Linked DNA regions of Homo sapiens: region 1 is linked to region 2. A link means that fine-mapping ties the variant in region 2 to the expression of a gene that starts in the linked region. Tissue or cell type: whole blood. Region 2 holds a variant in brackets; the other region holds the start of a gene. All regions are shown on one strand. Distances are between the middles of the regions.

Region 1 (5,390 bases), 85 kb before region 2:
CAAACTCTGTGACCCCAGCAAGGAGGGATGATTTCTCACCCAGTCCTGGTGGAAGGTAGGAGCAGGAAGAAGGGAACACTGCAGTGTCTGAAATTTCTCACATACAATCAACCATCCCTGTCCTTCCTTCCTCCTTCCTGTACTGCCCACTCCCCTATTTCCTCCATAGTCTGTGTTCCAGGATAGTTTCTTTCTATTTCCTTCAGGGCACTGAAGGTAAAGATCAAGGGTACTACTTTTAGCAGAAGTACTTGCATTTTTTTCCATTCTAAGAGATGCCAAAAGTTAGACCTCTAATGCGGAAGCTTGACAGGGTGAGAAAAGAATTCAGCATCTGTCCGACTACACAGTATGTTATCTACTCAAAAGTCCAGCCCTGGAAAGCTGTCCTTCCACCTCAGGAGGAAATACAGCTGCTTGCTGGGTTGTTCACTTCAGCATCTTCAATAAGATGAGCTCTGTATCAAAGAATCCTGAAAAGTTTGAAGAGAGAGGAGAATATATAGAGTAGTAGGAGTGAGCATAGTCCCTGTGAGAAATGACTAGACATGACTAGAGATTCTCTGAAGTTCAGCCCAAGGAAGAGATCAGCCTTTTGCATTGCAAACTTTCCCCCCACACTAGTAAAGGTGAAAGGCCTACGTATCCCAATGACTAAAAGGCCAAATTAGAGCTAGCTTTTTGGCTTATGACTTAATTGTTGTTGGTTTTAGTTGTAGTTTATAAAGAATTTTTCATGGACCTTCTTTTCTCTTAATGCTACCAGTAGGCCTTATCAGTCCTTTATACCAACTGTTCCCAACCTTTTAGCACCAGGGACCACCTGTACCAGTCCGTGGCCCATGTGTTGGGGACCCGTAATTTATACCATGGTGTTAGATTAGTTTGAGATGCTCCCCATAAGAGCAGTTTTTGAAAGGAGGGAAAAAAAATAGAACCAGACTCCCAAGGTTGGCGGAAAAAAAACAATCTCACATATTTGAAAGACTGAGTCCTTTATATCCTCTGCCATCTTTTCGATGTTCCCCTTCCCTTTGCCTTATCAATGTACAAAGCTTTTTACTAGAAAATACAAGGCAAAATGCACATTCTCTAATAAAGCAGAAAATTACTTTGGATAAACTTTCAGCAAAACCATGTAGATTTCTTGGTTTAAAAAAATTGTGTTTGTGCAGGAACTTTTTGTTTATACATCCCCACAAGCTCCAACAAAACTGAAGATGATAATCAAGGTTGCAGATTTTATTAGGGTTCACTTTAGAAAATAAATGTATAGTATAAATGGAAATTAAATATTTCAGGAAATGACTGGCTTTATCCAGAACATACAAGTTTTAATTTTTCAACAGACAATATCAAGATGTTCTTTATTTAGCCCCTACCTTGCATAGTGGGGAAGACACAAGGCCAGTTGAACAGTGAACTGCTGAAAGCAAATTTCACTTTCAACACAGAAAGCACGGGATTATGAAACAGGTTCTTCTTAAGAAATACAGAGGGTTTTAAACTTTTTGGTTGCAAAAAAAAAAAAAAAAAGATGTGTAGTTCATTTCCTCCTCTGTTTTCTGCAGAGCACTAAGAATTGTAACTGAATTTGCTTCACTTTTCTGACTCACTCGTCACTGTGAGGCTGTAATCACTCTGTATTGACAACTGCTTCTTTGGGGCCAGATTGTCAAGTAACATGACAGAGGGGTCTCAGTCTCACTAAGAAAGATTTTCCAGTAAGCAGTGACCGGGAATCATAAGAATCACTGACTTTCATCTTCTCTCTTTTATTTCTTTTATTTTAGTTAGAAATAACTACTTACATAATGTCTTACTACATAATGTCTTGCTACATTATGACAGTGAGTGTGGTCAGAGCAGCCAGGAATGAATGCCAAGGGAAGATGAGGAGTGCAAGAAATTGTCCGTAACTCCCTGAAAATACTGTAACGAATCTGGTCTAATGTGTTTCTCAGAGACCAGAAAACTTATGACTCTCTCTTCACATTCCACTAGTTCAATTTTTTGAGTTCACATTTGTTTCTCATTCTTGGCTTAGCTGATGCATTCCAAGCTTATTCTTCTAAATTATTATGTATTTGCCCCAAGCAAAGAACTTTTAATGCACAGAGTTTATGGGCTATTCTCTATAACTTTAAGGAAAATGAAATTATTTATACCTGGAGTAGGAAATCCTTAAGCAGGATAAAAAAAACCAGTTGAAATCAATAGTTGCCACATGATAATACATTTCTATTCACAAATGGCCTGGTTCCAGGTAAAACTTCAGGATACAGAGAATGCTAGAACGTGCAGCAAAATGAAAGCCCAGACCACTTAAGTAAACTTTCCAGTCTCTTGTTAATAGCTGAGTAAATCTCTGGGCAATCCTCAAGAGGTTCTTAGAAGTCGTCCCTCGTTTATATCTAGAAGGTTCTTGTAATTGTCTTGTAAATCTCCAAAGATATTTAGAGATTACTTTGCTTTAAATAGAGACCAAAAATGACACAAAACTAAAGCTGGACTATTGCCTGGTACACTATTTCTACCTAGTGCAATTTTTAATTTCTTAAAAATCAAGTGATCTGACAGCACAATACTTGTCAAGTACTTGTCATACTGAGATGTTTCTTGCCATCCATATGTATATTTTTGCCAACTATATTTATTGACTATTGATGCTTATTCCAGGTGGCTGAGTCACCCCAATGCTTGGAGGAAGCAAGCAGGGTACAAATCAATTGATCAATGAAAACACTAACGACTGACTTTTAAATCACAAAGCCATTTTAGAGTATAAGTAAATACCTGAAATAAAGAAGGCACTTCACTCACTCCTTCTCTTCCATTCCCATCAACTTTTGTGGGTAAATGCAATAGGTAATTGAAAACTTAATATCACAACCCCTAAATAGTCAAACAGCCTCTAGTAACTTGTTTCTTCCTGGAAAAGATGAATCTGATCCCAATTAACTTAAATAAAACAAACCAAACAAAACTCTCCACTACCAGCCTGGCAGCTAGGGAGGCATTATTGGGTCTGAATGTAGGAAATCAGGAAATACTTACAATCAAGATGAACGTGCCCAAGAACTCAGAGAGGGTTTCTTTCGCTAAGCTGCTCTTCAAGACCAGTCTCTGCTTGAAGCTTTTTCCCTTTTCTGCTCCCTCAGGCTGCATCTTGGGGCTTCTCTGAGGACTCCTGTTTCTACCAATACCTACCTGTTGTGGTCCTCACTTTCACAGCCAGATGAAAATGGACGTTTTGACAATGGCTCACAGATTCCTGGAGATGTCTGGTAAGAGTCTCTGACTGTACAAATGCCGTTCCAATTAGAGGCTGTGGCTTAATCGTCTTCTGGTGGAACTGTCATTCCCTGTTCGCTGCTATTTGTTTGAATCTGCGACTTAGAACCCGAAATCCCCAAAACAATCCCTTTTGTGCCTGACAGATTAATCATTACCTTTATTCTCAAGGTACTTTTTTCTCTGTTGGTTTTTTTCAAGAGATGAGAAAAGAGATGTGCCAGTTGTGTTGCCAAATCACAGTGACGGGCCCTGGTCCAGAAAAGATTTTCATGTTACACAATTGCAGGCTTCTGATTTTTTTTTCTTCTCATTCAGAAGTGGGTGGTTGGGGTGTAGTTTGGAACTGTCAAATCAGGTGTAGATATATCCAATGTTAACATTCTTTTCTGAAAAAGGTTTTTATGCAAAATGAAGAATTTGAAGAAAATATAGATTTATCATCCTAGAAGATTAATCACTCTTGTTTTCTTCTGGTATCATTTCAGTGGCTTCATGATACCACTCTGAGGTTAGTAAGAACCACATAGGCCATCCTAGAGATGGAGAAATTAACATACAGAGAAACCATTGCAAGCTTCACACTGCAAGTCTGTAGGACAGATGGAGTCACCTCTTCGGTTATGAAACTGGGCTTCACTTGCTGAAGATACTTTAGGATCCAAGAATCAGAAAGATGGAGGAGTCACCTTTTTGGTGACTTCTGAAGTTTCTTCTGAAGAAACATTCCAGTTTGGGTTTCTTCTGAAGAAGCATTCCAGTTTGAAAATAGTCACTCTTCTTCATTCACCATGAAATATTTAGACATAATACATAGGAAATAAACAATAGCAGCTTGAAATTCTTTACTGCATGGAGATGACTGAGCCGGAAAGAGATCAATTAGCGTGTATGTCATTCTAATCAAACGAGAAAGGGAGCCAGTACACCTAACCGAGGCTCCTAGGTTATACCCTTTCAATTTGATAAATTGACATCCTTGCTGGCAAGAAACTGTGTTTGGGAGTAGCTCCTTGTCCTGCCAAATATTCAAGCCTTGTTTTTCAAAACTGGCTTATCTGAAGAAATAGAATATAGCATTAGTTTCTAAATAGCAAGGCAGGCCTAGTTTCTGATTACCAATGTGGACTCATGGAATTAGTATCCATGCTGTGTGGTTCCTTCCAGTCCTCCCACAGGGAAGCCAGCTCTGCATCAGGCCCTCCCCTAGCTTTGCAAAAAGGGAGGGAGGAGAGGACATGGAGAAAGCAGCTGGTGAGAGGCCAAAGGCAGAAGGAGACTTCTCATCTGTAGGTGACATTTAGAATTTAGACTTTAAAAAGTTATAACCTGCCTGAGGCCACACTACTGCAGAACCAGGACAAAACCTCAGCACTTTGGCTTTAATTCCTGATGAAGTTATCATAAATACCATTGTCTAGAAGAGTTACCTATGACCACACCATTACCAAGTCCCAGTGGATGGACCAGAGAAACAGGACTTTCTTACTGTGACTACAGCTAATAACATGCAAGAGCGTTCTCTGGTCTTCCCATTCACTCATCTAACAACTATTTACTGCACACTCATTATGTGCCAAGCACTGCACTTAACAAGAGCACATAGGGTTCTTGTCCTTCACAGAGCCTAGAGTCTAGTGAAGCAGACAGATGTAAGTGAAATAATCCCACACACATAAATACAAAATCACAACTGAGATGTATGCTGCAAAGATGGGGGCCATATTTCCATAAGCAAATATAGCAAAAGGATTTGACTTTGTTGGAGAGATCTCTGATGGCTTCTCCAAGGAAGTCATGTGTGGACTGAGATCAGAAAGAAGCATGGGATTAACTACATGAAGTGGGGAAGAAAGTGCATGTACAAAGTCCTTGGTGGCTTTGGGGGTAAGGGGTAGGGGACAGCATGATGCCTCTCAAAGAATGAGAGAAATTTACTGTGGTTGGCCCCAGAGAGAGTGAAGGAGTACAGCATGCAAAATGAGCCCTGAGGTGTGGGCAAGGGTCAGACCTTACTAGGCCTTGTAAGTGGTAGTTAGGGCTAAAAGTGTAAGTCATTAAGGTGGTTTAAGCAGAAATACGACATGATCAGATTA
Region 2 (5,390 bases):
TTTAAAAATTGTATTCCTTGAAGTCTTGGAATCAGATTAGGAAGTCTAGAATGTGTGGTCTTCTCTATAATGGGAAAATAGGAGAAACTACTTTGATTGATGGTTTTAATACACACTAGTTTCCCTAAACTAAGAACAGTGCTGTGTTCCACAAACTTACCTCTAGGCGGCCACTGTATAAAACTCTAGGGTAACATGATTATTATAACTTATTCATGTCAAGACTTAATTTCCCTACCTTTCTTACATTATCTGGAACAGAATAAGTACTTAAATATTAGCTGTGGTTGTACTCTTGCTCATGTGCGCTCGCGCTGTGTCTCTCACACACATACAACACTCATTTTTGAAGGGTCAAGATAAATTGATGAATTATTCACTCTGTGCTGCTGATAGATTTGGAGAAAACATGGATAGGTAGCAAATAATTTAAAAAGAATTTCTAAAAGACCTTTTTTTTGAATAACTCTACATTATTCAAGAATAATATACTTCATCCTGTTAGTGAAGAGAATTTAAATTATTCCTAAGCACCAGGTCTGAAAATAACATTACTTCTTATTTTGTTAACATTTTAACTTAAGTTCTAAACCCAAAGCTGGTGTATATATTTACCTTTGTGTTTGAATTTCATCAGTGATTTGGTTCATACATGTGTATCTCTAATTTTAAAGAAAATATTGTGGAAGTGTGAAATTCTCCAACCTTAAAACTAAAACTACCCCTTCTGTGTATATACTTACATATAACACCTGACAATTTTGGCTACACACTTATTTTTTGATAATGAATGTATATTCTCTGAGCATTCATATTACTTATTTGCACTTCTCAGTGGTACAATTTTTGCATGGTATTATATTTTTCTGTGTAACTCCCTACTTCTAAACTGTACTAGATTATAAACTCTTATTTATCATGGTGTTTCTGAAGTACCTAGCTCAATGTCTAACAATGTAGAAACTTCAAGAATGTTTTCTTAATGAATACTTGTTATATTTTAATAGCTACGGCTTTTATTATTAATACTACAATATTCAGAGTACTTTTCACATATGATTACATTAAATTCTTGGGGCAACACTACGATGTGGATATTGTATTAATATCTTCATTTTATAAGTGAGAAAATCAAGCATATTAAAGTTAGTTTTTTCAGGCTCAACAGCAATAGTGGGTGGCAATTCCAGGACTCAATACTCCTCCTTCCCTACTCGTAACAATAAGGACAAACATAATAACCACTACAAAGACAATACAATTTGGACTATTAACCTAAAGCCTTGCTGAATGTTTCATAGGAAACCCCAAGCCCAGTTCCTCAACTACAAATCCCATATTTCATTCAGATCCTAAGTCTAATTCCACTCAGTATTGTCCGCAGCTATCATAAGCAACAATTCCAACCAGACAAAAATGGGAGTATGAATTTAAAAAAAGGAGAGAATTGATACAATTTGACACTTTAGGTATACATCACCTGGGAATATGTGATTTTTTAGGTTATGATAAAGAACGATGTTTTTCAATCCTCATTGGTTGTGTAGTCACACACTGCCCTTAATAACACCTGTTTATTTGATCTGTTTTGTTTGCATTCAAAAAGTGTTTTCTTTTTTTATGGCTGTTAAGATTGACTTGGGAGGGAGGATGTGTGAGGCTATTGAGGATAATATATTTTACATTCTTTCTAATGCTTTCTGTGCCCCAGTGGGCCATCATTTTGTGTAACTGGGCTATAATTTCTGTGAGAGAGATGCTTGCCAGAAAGAGTTGGGTGGGTATGTTCCATCTTGTCTCTTATGAGCAATCATCTTACTAAGGCTTAATTACTATCAGATCCCTCTGTTACCTGTAATCTCAGTGGGGAGGCAGAATAGAGGAATTCATGCAGTACTCAAACTTTGAGTTTCAGCAACACAAAGGGGTGGCATTTGGGGTGCACAATTAATGTTTCATTATAAATGATTGAAAAATCCTCTCTAAAGAAACTGCTGAAAGGTTGTGTCCTTTAAGCCAGATCTTGCAATCTCCAGATTTCTCTGACTTCACTTTTAGAGAGAACAGATCTTTTTTACTTACCAAACTTAT[G/A]CCTTTTCTTTCCTTTTTTATTCCTCCCCTTTTGTGCTTCTCTTCTGCTTCCCTTGGTGTTTCTCTTAGGACAGGCACTTGATAACTCTTATTTCTCGTTTAGACTCATTTACCTGTTTGCATGAAATGGTTAGTTATGCCTGGGAACCTTTGTAGTTGGCTCTCCCAGCTGTTGGCCTAAATGGTCCTTTGGGAGACCAGAAGCAATGAACCTGGAATAACCACATTTGACTTCTGGGAGCCCTCCTGAGAATTTAGTAATTACTTAATGGATTGAATTGGCGACATATACTATTCCAGATAACAGCCTGGGTTGCATTAAATTAACCTTCACAAATGGGTATTTATTGGTGTACTCTTAAAAGACTACACGTGTTGGCTGTAATTGCTCTTCCATGTTTCTCCATGCTGATAGGTATTTGTACTGAGTGAAAAATTTCTGAGATTAAAGCCTGGGTGGTAGTTGTAGCTATTTAGTGATGTGTGTCATTGTGTTCAGCACATTGAGCATAAATCCTGTCTTGTAAACAGCAGGGAGACTAATGAGGTTTGCCCACATTCTGGTATCATTACCAGGAATTCCAACAGAGAAAAAGAGAGGGCGTAGAAAAGAAGTACACAAAACAGTGATTTTTGGAACTCCTGATGATCTGATTTAAGGAGAAAGATGATTGCTCAGCATTTAGTATAGGCATGTATGCATAAATAGGGGTACATAAAGTACACTTAGCCAAAAAACAAACCAAACATTTTGCTTTCACTGAATGCTTGCAAAGTCACTAACTTATTGCTACGGAGATGAGGGCCTTATTTGTGAGTGTCTGTAATTGTGAGTGGTGTAAAGGGGACAACTGTTGAAATAATGCAGCTGTTAAAATGATAGCATGCTTTTTGCTTTTTTGGAACACTTTATAATTTCAGTGAACTAAAATTCCACACCAATTTTAGTTTTACAATTTTTGGAGTATTTCTGCTGTCATTTTCAGTGATAGGCACACATGACTTCAGAACACAAAAATCTCTTAGAAGAAGCATTTTAAATGTGGCATTTTAGGTTTATTTCGAACTTTATTATTACTGTTAAGTACTGTGTGTTTTATAATGTCACTCCAAGGGATCCAATTACTGTTTAATTTGTAGACTCATTTTTTTCTTGGACTTAAATTTTTATGAGAGCCGGTATCATGGCTGCCTTGACACAGAGTGTGGTCCATACATCTTCGTGTTTGATGAATGAATAAATGAATACATCCTAGACAATAAATTGTCTGATTTCATTTGCAGAGTCATTAATAGTTAAAATGCCAGGACTAGAAAGTGAATTCCAAGGTAAAGTGTTTTGAAACAAATTTCTTTCATGTGCTTCCTTTAAAGAAGGTATACACACATCCACTTTGGAAAACTCTTCTGCTTCATTGCCACGCATTTACCCCTTCCTCTGAAATAGAAACCTTTCAGTGTACCTTGCAGAGCAGTGAACAAGGCACTGGACAGGGCATTAGAAGACCCGTGTTCTGACCCCAGCTCTGTCACTTATGTATGTTCATTTAACAGTTTCTTGGATATGCAGGCATTGAATAAATACTTATTGAATTAGCGAATGAACAAAATAACTTGATCATTTATTATCTATTCTATAATGGGACCTGGAAATATGAAAATGCTTTGTGATACTGGGTACGCCACTTAAATTTCCTGGTAACAGGAAGCAGAGGTTGCACTGAGCCGAGATTGCGCCACTGCACTGCAGCCTGGGCGACAGAGCAAGACTCCCTCTCAAAAAATAAAAAAAATAAAAAATAAATCCTGGTAACAGCTTTGTTACTTACAAAATGAGAGACCAGAATGAGATGCTTATTAATTAATCCACCTACTTTTTAAAAGTGTTGGATTAGAAAAGCTATAAGATTTCTTTACCCCACCCTGACTAATTAGAACTCTACTTTCCTGGGCCCAGAACTTGGGATTATGGGCATCTGAAAGACAATACTGAACTGCTTGCATATTTAGTTGTGGTCTTTTTAGGGCCGAAAATTTGCACTCAAACAGTTTTGTTGAAAATACTGTCTCAACAATGTACTCATGGTTACCAAAGAGTAGTCCACAGAAATCCCTGTTAATGATTCTCGTTATATAAATGAGTGGCTAGCAGTGTCATAAAGATCCAGCGGAAATCAAAATGTTTCATATTTGCTAAGGACTTACCATATTAGAAATTAGAGCAGTGACTCCCAAGAGACTTCCTCCTTTGAGTCTTGGTGAAAATTGATTTTAATACTTTGTAATAGTAGTAGGCAGAAAATATTTGTTGTCATTTCTCCTCCAGACCATTTGAGCAGCTTTCCTGCCAAGCTAAGCTCATGAAAACCATGGAGGGTGAGGAAGCGTGGTGGCAAGGGAACTTGTCAGAAGCTTACAGCTTTTCACTTGAGTCTAATAGAGACTTAGCACTTTGCAGGTCAGTGCCACTGCTATTTGTCTCTGACCTAAGAGATCTGGAGTTCTTCACATCAAAACCACATCTTGCTGAGCAGAGATCAAACGTAGGAAGGTAAGAATTCTGCCAGTGATTTATCATGCCAGGGAGAGTGATCAGGCCATATGGGGCCACTGCAAATGAAGTTGACATTCTGGCAGTTTCTCATATAGGCCTCTCATGTAGTTATGGCTAGTTTTTCTTGTAGAGGAATTCCGGGTCAAGTGGCAGCTTTCAGTGGTATTTCTTAGCAGAACTGACCTCCAACATGAGGTTTATTTCAAAATGTAGTCCTAGCAAGAGTTTTCTAATGTTGTGTTTAAATGGCAAATAGGGATCTTGACCAAATTTGAGCTTTTCATTTGTCTCCTTTCCTCTTTTTTTCTTTTCTGGGAAGTTGCCTATCTAAAAAAATAAATAAATAAAAAGAGAAAATTAAGTTTAAGATGTACAAAAATTTCTCAAAATGTTAGATGTGATTTTAAAATGAACTCTATAAATTATGCACAATTAGGCTTATTAGTTTATCATCACAGTTTAAGTCAGGGTCCTTTAGGAATGACTTACTGCAAATAATATTATAATCCAGTTCCTGGGGTAAGAGGAAGCATCACATTTAAGGAATAATTTAATTCTTTAAATACGATTATTTGCTAAGATCTGAGTCAAGTGCAAACCTTTTCATTTGACAGAAAAAAATTCAATAATTCTTCTTTAACTACTTATATCAACAGATATGTAAAAATGATTGTGCTACATAAAATTCAGCATTTTGTTTACCGTCACAAGCAAATGTTTAGTCTCCTGTGGAGAAATCACTCAT

What was found. PIP is the estimated chance that this variant, and not a neighbour inherited with it, causes the effect.
Region 1: AQP9 starts here. The variant in region 2 is fine-mapped to the expression of AQP9 in whole blood (INTERVAL, PIP 0.92).

The regions. Positions count from the first base shown.
Region 1 is chr15:58,136,344-58,141,733 of GRCh38, reverse strand. It overlaps AQP9 (aquaporin 9), which reads right to left and starts at 3,353. Exons shown (of 6, transcript NM_020980.5): 1 at 3,058-3,353. The coding sequence starts at 3,168.
Region 2 is chr15:58,050,963-58,056,352 of GRCh38, reverse strand. All of the region lies in intron 1 of ALDH1A2 (aldehyde dehydrogenase 1 family member A2), which reads left to right. Among named protein-coding and RNA genes, the nearest start is that of ALDH1A2-AS1, 12 kb to the left of the region's middle. The variant G/A (reference allele first, on the strand shown) is at 2,092.